Linked DNA regions of Homo sapiens: region 2 is linked to region 1. The links come from fine-mapping of genetic effects on gene expression. A gene starts in region 1. The other region holds a variant in brackets. All regions are shown on one strand. Distances are between the middles of the regions.

What was found. PIP is the estimated chance that this variant, and not a neighbour inherited with it, causes the effect. A credible set is the group of variants that fine-mapping cannot tell apart.
Region 2: its variant is the best candidate, but not a certain one, in a credible set for the expression of LINC01564 in esophagus mucosa (GTEx, PIP 0.86).

The regions. Positions count from the first base shown.
Region 1 is chr6:53,625,830-53,631,217 of GRCh38, reverse strand. It overlaps LINC01564 (long intergenic non-protein coding RNA 1564), which reads right to left and starts at 2,838. Exons shown (of 3, transcript NR_125841.1): 1 at 2,772-2,838; 2 at 2,527-2,643; 3 at 1-205.
Region 2 is chr6:54,000,797-54,006,184 of GRCh38, reverse strand. MLIP-IT1 (MLIP intronic transcript 1) reads right to left here. Exons shown (of 4, transcript NR_046832.1): 2 at 5,091-5,275; 3 at 3,466-3,571. Among named protein-coding and RNA genes, the nearest start is that of MLIP-IT1, 4.6 kb to the right of the region's middle. The variant G/A (reference allele first, on the strand shown) is at 2,918.

The sequences.
Region 1 (5,388 bases):
AGAACTGCTAAAAGTGAGAGACATCCTGTTTATTCAGGGTTACTGCAGTCCCTTGGGGCGAGGACCATCTATTTTCATGTACTGCTAAACTGTCCAAGATTATGATGTGCTGGGTGTTTTTTGCTCATTTCTCATGCTTCATCTCTCTCTCTTGCTGATTTCTTGCCTTTTGAGCTCTTCAGCCAGCTGGCTGTGGTGGACAGGGCTGTAGGAAGGAGTGTAATAGAAATCAGGAAGTGAAGATGCTGATTCCCACACAACCGCCAGACTGGGAACGAGGCTGTCTTAAAGATCATTTGGGCAAAACACACGCTATACTGTCCCTGACATTATCTGTCAAGTGTCCGATCCAGAAGTAGCAAAGTGGGATGGATAATAATTAGTGGGACTATAGGGACCATAATGATAGCTTGGTGGCCACTGGGAAATTTCAGTCAGTGAGCATGGCTCCTGATATGAGATAATGTGTGATCTTTAGACTCAGGTCTCTTTTAGAATAGCTGAAGCTGGCATTGGGCCCATATATGCCTCCAGGTAAAGGACATCCCAGAGACATTTTGTCCAATACAAAGCCTGGAAGATTCCTCATATCTTGTACTAGATTTATTGTTGCCCTTGTTATATATCATAAATATCCATCTTCCGCATTAGATTCTGAGCTCCTTCAGGGTTAAAGTCATATAATTTTCATGTATAGTTCCCCAATGCCCAGCAAGCAATTTATTAATCAATCAACCAATTTTATGAAAAACAAAAAACAAAACAAACAAACAAACAAACAAACCACTGTACTTCATACCTGAATTAGACCAAACAGTTGAAACACTAATGGGACATTAGGACTCCTCCAGGGGGAATTAAAAATGGTATCTCCCTTTCCTCTGTCCCATTCTCTTGAGTCATTTGCGAATGAGCTGGGAATGTTAGTCCCCCTCTTGTCTTAAAATGGAAAGGTTCTGGATGTAGGGCCCTGGAATAGTAATTAGAACTAACTTTCCCCATCCACCCACCCACTACGTGACACAAACTGCCTTCAAACCTGGCTGGAGAGATTCACCCAAATGCTTATTGTCATCTATTGCATCATCTTCTAGGAAAGAAGAAAATTGCTTCCATATCTCCATGGCCCTAAATGGTCTTTATCTAATCTGACCAAAGTCATCTCTTGGCCTTTTGATGCCAACAGCATTGGCCATCCTTGCTGCACCCAGGGTCACCCTGACCAAACACTCTGGAAGTGTGCGTGATTCATCAGGTCCCACCTTATGGAAGTTACAACAGTAGTATGGGTAGGACAATAGGACAGAGTTACAGCAATAGCAGTGGCCAACCTGCATTGCAGAGAACCAAAACTGCAAGTTCTATTTCCATTCTCCATCCAAACAAATACTGTATTTTTTTAAAAAAAATAAATAAATCCAGATATGCCTTCCAGTTCCTTGACCTTAATCTCTCACTCTGGATCTGTTTAGATTCTATGCCCTTCATGTAGCTATTTACGACCCACTGGTTTACTATCTCGGTCTGATGTTCTAGACTCTGACATCTGGTCAAATATTTCATCAAATATTTGATACATGAATGAAGAGGAGACTTTAAGACTTTCAAAAGGATAAGAACCAGAGGCTAGGCATGGTGGCTCATACCTGTAATCCCGGCACTTTGGGAGGCCAAAGCAAGTGGATCACTTGAGGCCAGGAGTTCGAGACCAGCCTGGGCAACATGGTGAAACCTCACCATTATTAAAAATACAAAAATTAGCTGGGCACAATGGCAGGTGCCGGTAATCTCAGCTACTCAGGAGGCTGAGGCACGAGGATCACTTAAACTTAAGAGGCAGAGGCAGAGTCTGCAGTGAGCTGAGATTGCACCACTGCATTCCAGCCTGGGCAACAGAGCAAGAACCTGTCTCAAAAAAAAAGGATAAGAACCAGAGCAGCAAACTCAACCCTGATACATTGCCATGTATCTCAGAAATATCTACCTGGATGTTAAAAGGGTAAATAGAAAGAGTTCACGCTCCATATTCCCCTGGTTAAATTGAGACATTATAAGACGGATGTGGGAAATAGAAGAGAACGAATTATGAGGTGTGCTGGCCCAAAGCCACATGCCTTGTGGGGAAACAAATTCTTTGACCACCCTCAACAACAGTGACTCCCAACCTCCTTGGAATTTTGGCACCCTATCATTATGTACTTGATGATCCAGTCTTGATTTGACAACCTCCACTCCCGCACTTGGCATGAAAAAAGTTATGCAGCATAGATTTATTTCATTTTTTCCTAATGAATGTGAATGAACATGACTTTTATTGCAAGCATTTTATAGCCTTTCTTGAAACAACTTGCATCATCCTGGCTAAATGGAACACAATTTTTCAAAAAAATAAACTTGAGCAGTCGTGTAGCTAACACAACACTACAGTTAGTAAGACAGCATGACAGCAACAGCCCCAAGGAAATAGACAGCAATCCTGGTTTCAGTGAGGGAGACAATGTGAGAGAGGGAGAGCTCCCAGTATACCTGAATATGTTTTCTGCAAATAGATTCCCGAACATGTCCTCACATCCTTCCAGTAAGTTTTCCAGTAAGCCTTCCAGTGAGCATTCACTTGAGCCAGTTTCAGTTTGTTTTCCATCCCTGCAAACAAATGATCCTGGTCTAGATCATGCTGAATTGGCACTCAGAAAAAGATAAACAGAGACCAGTAAAAAGCCTTGGCAGACCCATAATCTACCTTCTCTCATCAGCCCCTCAGAGCACAATACCTTGCTGGAAGTGGAGGAGTGAGACAGAGGTTACTTCGGTGTCTGGGATCATGTATGTGCCGCCTGGTTTTCCTATAACCAGCTCTGACACTTCTGCCTAACAGAGCCATCTACCCATATCTGAAATCCCTAATTCTAAAGTAAAGATAACATTTTTCTTGGCTTCTTTGGCTGATATCTTTGGATAGAGCAAAGGAAAAAGAGAGCAACAACACGGAGAGGAAAGATGAAACAAAACATGGAGAACTGTGTAAATGTATCCCCACCAAAACAAGCACACTTCATTCTACAGAGCACACAAAGAAAAGATCCTGGAGTTAGAAAAAGACTCTGTTACAGCGGAGTAAATACTTGCTGGGCTTTTCAACAAAAATTTCTTTGCCCTACAGACAGGTCTGGCTGCCTAATTTCTGCTATTAAACAAGCTCCAACTTGATCTGGACTTCATGAGGAAATGTGAAATTTGAACCTTTTTATTTCCCCAGCTTTTTTCCGTGCTCCCACTTTATTTTGGTTACTGCCTTGACTTCCACCCCCAGGTGCTATAACTGCTTTATTTCCTCCTGCCCATAGCCTGTTCAACACATGGCGGTTGCTGGTCCATTTTCTCGAAGCACTGCTTTCTGCCATATAACCGTGGGTGGCACCAGTTTATACAGGCAGTGGCAGTGTAGGCAGGAGGCGTTGGTTTCAACAGGGTGACAGCACACAGCTAAGCAGCCAGTGCCTTCTCTGGGCCTCAATTTCCTCATGTATGAAATAGATATTTCCTCACTACTAGGGTTGTTGAGGGGATCAAATGAGAGAGCAAATGCAAAGCTCCTGGCTCAGGGGCAAGCACACAGCAGTACCCGCTAGGAGGATGCTGGCCTTCCCTCTGGAGGTGACAAAGTACCTGCTCCTGAGAGTTCAAGTAACTGGGTCCAAAAGTGCATGGAATTTGAGACAGGTTTATAAAACAGTGGGTAGAGGATGAAGGACTCATGCTCAGGAAGAACTTCTCTGCCCTCACATCCCACTATCCCAGTACATGAACAGAATGTGCTTTTAGAACCCCATCATGGGCTCAGAGGGAAACCTCTGAGAAGATTCAGGAAGCCATTCAGCCAGAAAGGCTGAAGGAAGGCAAACAGCAGAACTCAGCACTTTCAGCATAATGGTCAAAACAGAACTCTGCAGATAAACCTTAATTGTAAAACAAAATTGGTGAAAGAAAAATGGGTGAATTAATGGGGATTCTAATTTAATAAAGTTAGAATTAACTACTGTCAAGTTAAAAGGAAGTTTAAAGTCAGTCTTATTATAAATGATTAGTCCACTCAGTCCTCTGCGGGAACCAAAATTCTCCTTAACATGTTAGGGAAATTAAATTTGTTATTTAGAACCTGTGATAAATCTCTTACACTCTTTGTTGGAAAAAACTTTAAATGCATCATTTATTGAAATTAATCTTCTTTCATTAAATAACCTTTGATTCCAAGAAATAGCAAACCTTTTAACTTTTAACCTACAAGTGAAACAGCCAAATCCAGATAGTAAATTTGAGTTAATTTAGCTGATGATATGGCTGGAAATTTTATTCTCAGAGATATCTTAGAAGATACAAATCTATTATTGTTAATGTGAGAAGAGCAATGTATATGCATATTATTATGTCAATCTTATTTGGTTGTAGTTTTAAAATTTAGCTAGTTATTCTCACAGAATTTTTCATAAAGAATTAAGAAGCCTCCTAGGTTTTATTTAAAAACTTAATAACATAACTTAATAACATAAGCTACATAGAGGTGAAAAAGATAAATGAAAAACAAAAATAAGTAGCTAAACTACAACTAGGAATTAATCCAATAAAAAAAATTTTTAATATACAAAGCTATTTTGCGACCTTGGTAACACCTTTTTAACCAGGTAAGGAAAAAATAGTTTGACTTTTTATAAATATATAATATTTAACTTTTTGCTCTTTCCAGTTTAAACTTTGCCTGTTTGAAGGACATTCCAAAAATATTTCAGTACACTTCTTAAAAACCTTCTAATGCGTCTTCTTAGAATGTCATATGTTATTGCCAAATTAAATTACTGTTTTACTACCTGACAGCTTGAAAACAAGGACTATCATGTTATTAGAAAATCTTGCAAGAAAATAAATCTCAGCAATAATGTGAACTCATGGAAGTGACAGAATTTTTTAGAGACAGATATATAGATACATCTATATCAAATTTATATTTTTTTAGAGATGGAATCTTGCTATGTTGCCCAGGCTGGAGTGCAGTGGCTATTCACAGGTACAATCTAGGCGTATTACAGCCTTGAACTCCTGGCCTCAAGTGATCCTCCTGCCATAGCCTCCCAAGTAGCTGGGACTACAGACATGCCCTACTGTGCCCAGCTTTATCTATATTTTTTAAAGTGGAAAATTTCTGCTGGAATTTCTTGCAAGTTCCTGTTTACATGCCTCTAAGACTTCAAATATACCCTACCCTCCAACTTAATATACTATTCTTTTATTTAAATGATTTTCCCAGTACAGTTTTAGTTTTATTGGCTGTGTGGTTTTGGTCCCAACAAAAGCAGTTACCTTGTAAATTTCAGAAACATATATCTACTAGGTAAA
Region 2 (5,388 bases), 370 kb before region 1:
AAATATCACATGTACCCCATAAATAGTAAATATGTGCAACTATTATGTATCCATAAAAATTAAAGATCATCTTTTAAATTGCTATACTGGAAATTTAAGATAGAAGTAACATTTACTGGCTTTTTTTTTTTGAGACAGAGTCTCACTCTGTCACCAGGCTGGAGTGCAATGGTGCAATCTTGGCTCACTGCAAGTTCTGCCTCCTGGGCTTAAGAAATTCTCATGCCTCAGCCTCCAGAGTAGCTGGGATTACAAGTGTGTGCCCCCACACCTGGCTAATTTTTGTACTTTTAGTAGAGATGGGGTTTCGCCATGTTTGCCAGGCTGGTCTCAAACTTCTGGCCTCAGTGATCCACCCGCCTCAGCCTCCTAAAGTGCTAGGATTACAGGTATGAGACACGGTGCCAGACTTCAATGGCATTGTTAAAGCAACATGAGTATAAACATGGTTTCTTCTATGTAACTGTTGAGGCTTAATCACCACACATTGGCCAATTATCATTAAACCTCCTTTAGCAGCCAGGACTAAACGCACCATTCTTCCTTGGTACCACCCTTCATTCATCCGACAAACATTAGTTGACCACCTGTTAGCTGCCAAGCACTGTTTGAAACTTAGAAATAGAAATATATAGATATATGGTCCCTGTTCCTAAAGGTACTGTTACATGAAGGATGGCAGCCCTCATGGAAATAGACACAATAGAGAGGAATCACTGCATCCCACTCAGGGCTTCCCTGCATAGCCCTGGAACTCCCTCAGTGATACACACCCGACAGGTCCTCAGGTCAGTTCTGGTCCTTCAGAAAGTTCCAAGGAATGAGGGAGGGTAGCACTCTGAACACATTTCAACCACAAATCCCAGGCTTACCTAGCACTTCGCTTTTCCTGCTTAAATGAAAAAAGAATGGCTAAAAATGTGTTATAAGAATGGATGAGGCTGGGCGCAGTGGCTCATGCTTGTAATCCCAGCACTTTGGGAGATGGAGACAGAGGTGGGCGGATCAATTGAGGTCAGGAGTTCAAGACCACTGGCCAACATGGTGAAACCCCGCCTCTACTAAAAATACAAAATAACAGCCAGGTGTGTGTGGTGGGCACCTGTAATCCCAGCTACTTGGGAGGCTGAGGCAGGAGACTCGCTTGAACCCAGGAGGCAGAGGTTGCAGTGAACCAAGATCATGCCACTGCACTCCAGCCTGGGTGACAGAGTGAGACTCTGTCACAAAAAAAAAAAAAAAAAAAAGAATGGATGAGACGTTCCTTTGGAATTTATTCAAACATATCAAAGTTTTTTAAACCCAGCTATAACATCTGGAGCAGACAAAATCTACACTCAGTAGTAGATTCTTATGATCTCTCTTTTTCTCTCTCTCTCTCTCGCACCCTCCTTCCCTCCCTCTCACTGACTAGTTTATTAATATAAATGTTGCTCCCAATTTGAGAAGTTCATTGAGGCATAATTTAGAATTAATAAGCTCAGGCAATAGTATACAATTAATGTACTTCCCAAGTTAGGCAGGAGTTTAATGTCACCTCATAAAACCAAGTCTTTGTAATTATCGAAGTGCCAGCTGTGAACTGATCAGGAACACAATAGGAATTTTGTTAATTATCATTACCCAGAGGAAAATAATTAGTTTCTTTGTAGGGAGAATAAAAACAAATGTTGCTATTTTCATTTTAATTTCAACCACTGAAGTTGATAAAACTCAGAATTGGTCTACCAGTTTTGGTCCTCCTATTTCTAAATATTACAAACTCATTAATGCATTAGCAGATTGCATGTTAATCTTCATGTCCATAAATTAATTGGAACACTAGTCACTGGATAATTGGTACATTGTTTTTAGGGGGCATAAAATAACCGCCAAACCCCAAGGTAAAAAGGGCGACTGAAACACCTTTGGAGAGAATGATATAATCTAGCTTTCTTAAGACTTCAAAGCTTCATCAAAGTCTTCTTTAACCCATTATCTTTTCCTTTAAGCATGGCAAATTGACTTTCCTTCTCCCCTACACCTTGCAGATAAATCTCAAAATCATCAGATCAGAGTAACAGGGAGTATTTATTGGCCTAACTGAAGAACTTGGGTCCAATTGCAGCCTTCTCTTCTCTAGAGCCATCAGGCATGAGGACCCACTGTCCACTTCGGTTAGAAACCACACTGTCCATAGGGAATGCTATGTTTTGTTTGGAACACAGTATGGTACTTCTGAAATATTGAAGATAGTGCTAGGCCATTTGGGTAGCTCAAAAATGCAATAATGGCTGGGCACAGTGGCTCACACCCTTAATCTCAGTACTTTGGGAGGCTGAGGCAGGAGGATCTCTTGAGCTCAGGAGTTCAAGATGAGCCTGGGCAACATAGCAAGACCCTGTCTCTACAAAAAAAAAAAAAATTAAAAAATTAAAAAAAAAAAACTAACCAGGCATGATGGTGTGCATCTATAGTCCTGGCTACCTGGGAGGTGGAAGTAGGAATATCCCTTGAGCCCAAGGTGTCAGGGCTGCAATGAGCTATGACTGCACCACTGCAATCCAGCCTATGTGACACAGTGAGACTCTGTCTCTAAAAAAGAAAAACAAGCTAAAAGATGTTGAATGATTTATTGTTTTTAGATTTTTGGAGCTTTCAGGAAGCCTACAGATTACAAAGTGCAAGCAGACACAAGCATTAAAAAACAAGAATGTCAGGAATTCTGACCCTAGGGGCAGATAAGCAGTCACATCCTTTGCCCTAGGATGTAGAACTCAAGCCTAAACCTACAAATCTTGATTTTACAAATCCATCTCATGTCATTTTCATTCCATTAATTAAAGACATTTATGTGTCACTAAACGTCTTTCAACAGATCAGCTTTGCCGCATAGGTCCAAGTAAGAGCTTGGAAGAGAAAAGTGTTTGAGTCCAAC[G/A]TCTATATTTAAGGCTTTTGGCATTTACTTACATTCTTTGGGCCTCAGTTTCCTATCAGAAAAATGCAGATAAGAATAGCAACTTTGCCACAGTACTGTTTAAGGGATGAAGTGCAAAAAATTATCACTATACATCAGTATTCTCTTTGTGGAAACTGCTATTCCTCTAATTACTCTATGTTATCAGTAGATGAACAAACCTGAACAACAAACCAATAGTCAAGTGTCCATGGAGAGAAATTATTGTTGCAATTGAGTGAAACAAGTTGGTGGTGTGATATATGTAATGACTTGCATCACTGCCATTGTGCTGCATACTAATTAGTTATAAATAATAAGCCATAGATATAAATGTCTATAATTAGTGTTGCTTTTACAGGAAAGTTCAATTTTTCATTTTTCTTTTCTCATTTTGTCCATTCTCCATATCTGTAATCAGCATCAACATCAGCAATTTTTCAAAGTACAGCTTCACTATAATCACTCACAGGAACAATCACCCACATTAAAAGATAAAGCCCCTTGCCCTTGAACCAAGATGTTCTTACTTCAATGCTAGGTGTTTCAATTCATGGTTCAACCAGGAACCTTCTCCACTGGGATTTGCAATACTAGAGGCAGTAAAACATCTGGACCATGAGGTCACTTCTTCTCCTTGGAAGGCAATGGAGGATTGTTCACAGCATAAAGAAAAAGAGGAAGCAAGTCAACATCTGTGGAGGCACTCACAGGTATTTGGCACTGCTAGATGCTTTTCAATTTTGTATCTACATCTCCTACCACCCTCATAAGATAACTATGACATTATCCCCCTCTTACATGTGAGTAAGTTATACCTAACAAATGTCAAATAACTTATCTAAGTCCCCAGCTAGAAAGGGCAGCACAAGAGTTTGAACTGAGATCTGCTCCACATAAAATCCTAGCCTGCTATATTAGCAAGTGAGTCAGAGCAAAAGCCCTGAACTCAAAAGTATGTGGGTGTGTGGCCCAGGAGGGCAGAATCCAGGGAGACGGAGCTCTGAAACCTAGGAAGTGAGAGTTTTGAAAGAGATGAAGAGGATCAAGGATTGATCAAGGAAAGGGGAGAGGGGAATTAAGTCAGTTCATGATCACTTTCACTGTAAAAGTTTTGCTCTGGGAAAGGCAATGGATGAGTTCAAGGGTGTATCAGCTGGGCTTTGGTAGTGGAAGCAGAGTCACTATGAGCATTATGGTAAATCCATAAAGCATTTACCATAGGAATTAGAGTTTACAGAATTGTGGGAAGAGCAAGGAAAGGAAAGTTCTGGGAGAGGGAGTTGGAGGATGGAAAAGTCAGGAAGCACTGACTCAGGTTGGCAAGACAATGCTTTCAGAGAGACTTGAGAAGCCAAGCACAGCCAATCTATGAAGCAGGGCTGTGAGCAGGCGCTCAGGGAGACCTCAGGAGAGCTTTTGCCTTTGGCAGCTACTGCCTCTGTGGGTCTGGAATCAAGCATCTGGTGGTGGGCCTGGGGCCACAGTGGTCAGCAGGTCCTGTACTCTGGATGATGAGAGGACCACCATGTGGAGGACAGTGAGGATAAACTGGGACCCACCAGGTACCTCTGCATCTATTCATCTTTGTATCTGGTGTGCTTCCAATAGTGTATTTCCACTAAAGTTCCTCTCCTGACTAATGCTACAGGAAACTCCACAGGAAGGGGATTCTCCTAATGTACTTCCAAGCTTAATCAAGCTGTCAATAGGCACAATTTAAGACAAAGAGTGATGCAGGAAAATCAGTTAGGAAGCTATGTTATAGAAGTCCATGCACGATGTGACCAGTAGAGAGAAAAAAAATGATTTAAGAAACAGGAAAAAAATGCAAGTGGACTTGGCAATGCACTAAACAAATATAAAGAATTTATTTTTAAGGTTAACACTAGCTAAAATTAGAACTATCACAATTGATAGATAAATTGTAATTGGCAACAATGATTTACACAAGCACACTAATAGTCCAATTCTAGCATTATCAAAGGATTTTAAACCTACATTGGGAAACTTTTGCCTCTTGCAGCACATTGAGCAGAAAAAGCCATCAATAAACTATTTTAAAATTTCATGTATGAAAATATTTTTCATACGAAATGCTATCAAAACTTTATAAAAATAAAATTTATTAGAGGTGATACATGATTTTACTCACCTACGACAGGTTTTCTTGTGAGTGTAAAAAAATTATGCCAGATTTTTAGCGGTGAAGATTCTTCCTGTGTTAGGAGGATTGAAGACCTATGACTCCAACAGCCAAAAGAGTAAGATGTGCTTGGAATGCTTGCCTTCCAGAATATTTGAAGCAATTAAGCAATTTGCTCTTATTTCCTCTAACTACTGAAAAATCAAATATCGTAAGAATCCCTGTTGACCCCCAAATCCATCCATCACAACATATTGAGGCTCCCCTAACTGACCCACAAAGTAAATAAGCCTTAAAGGATACAAAA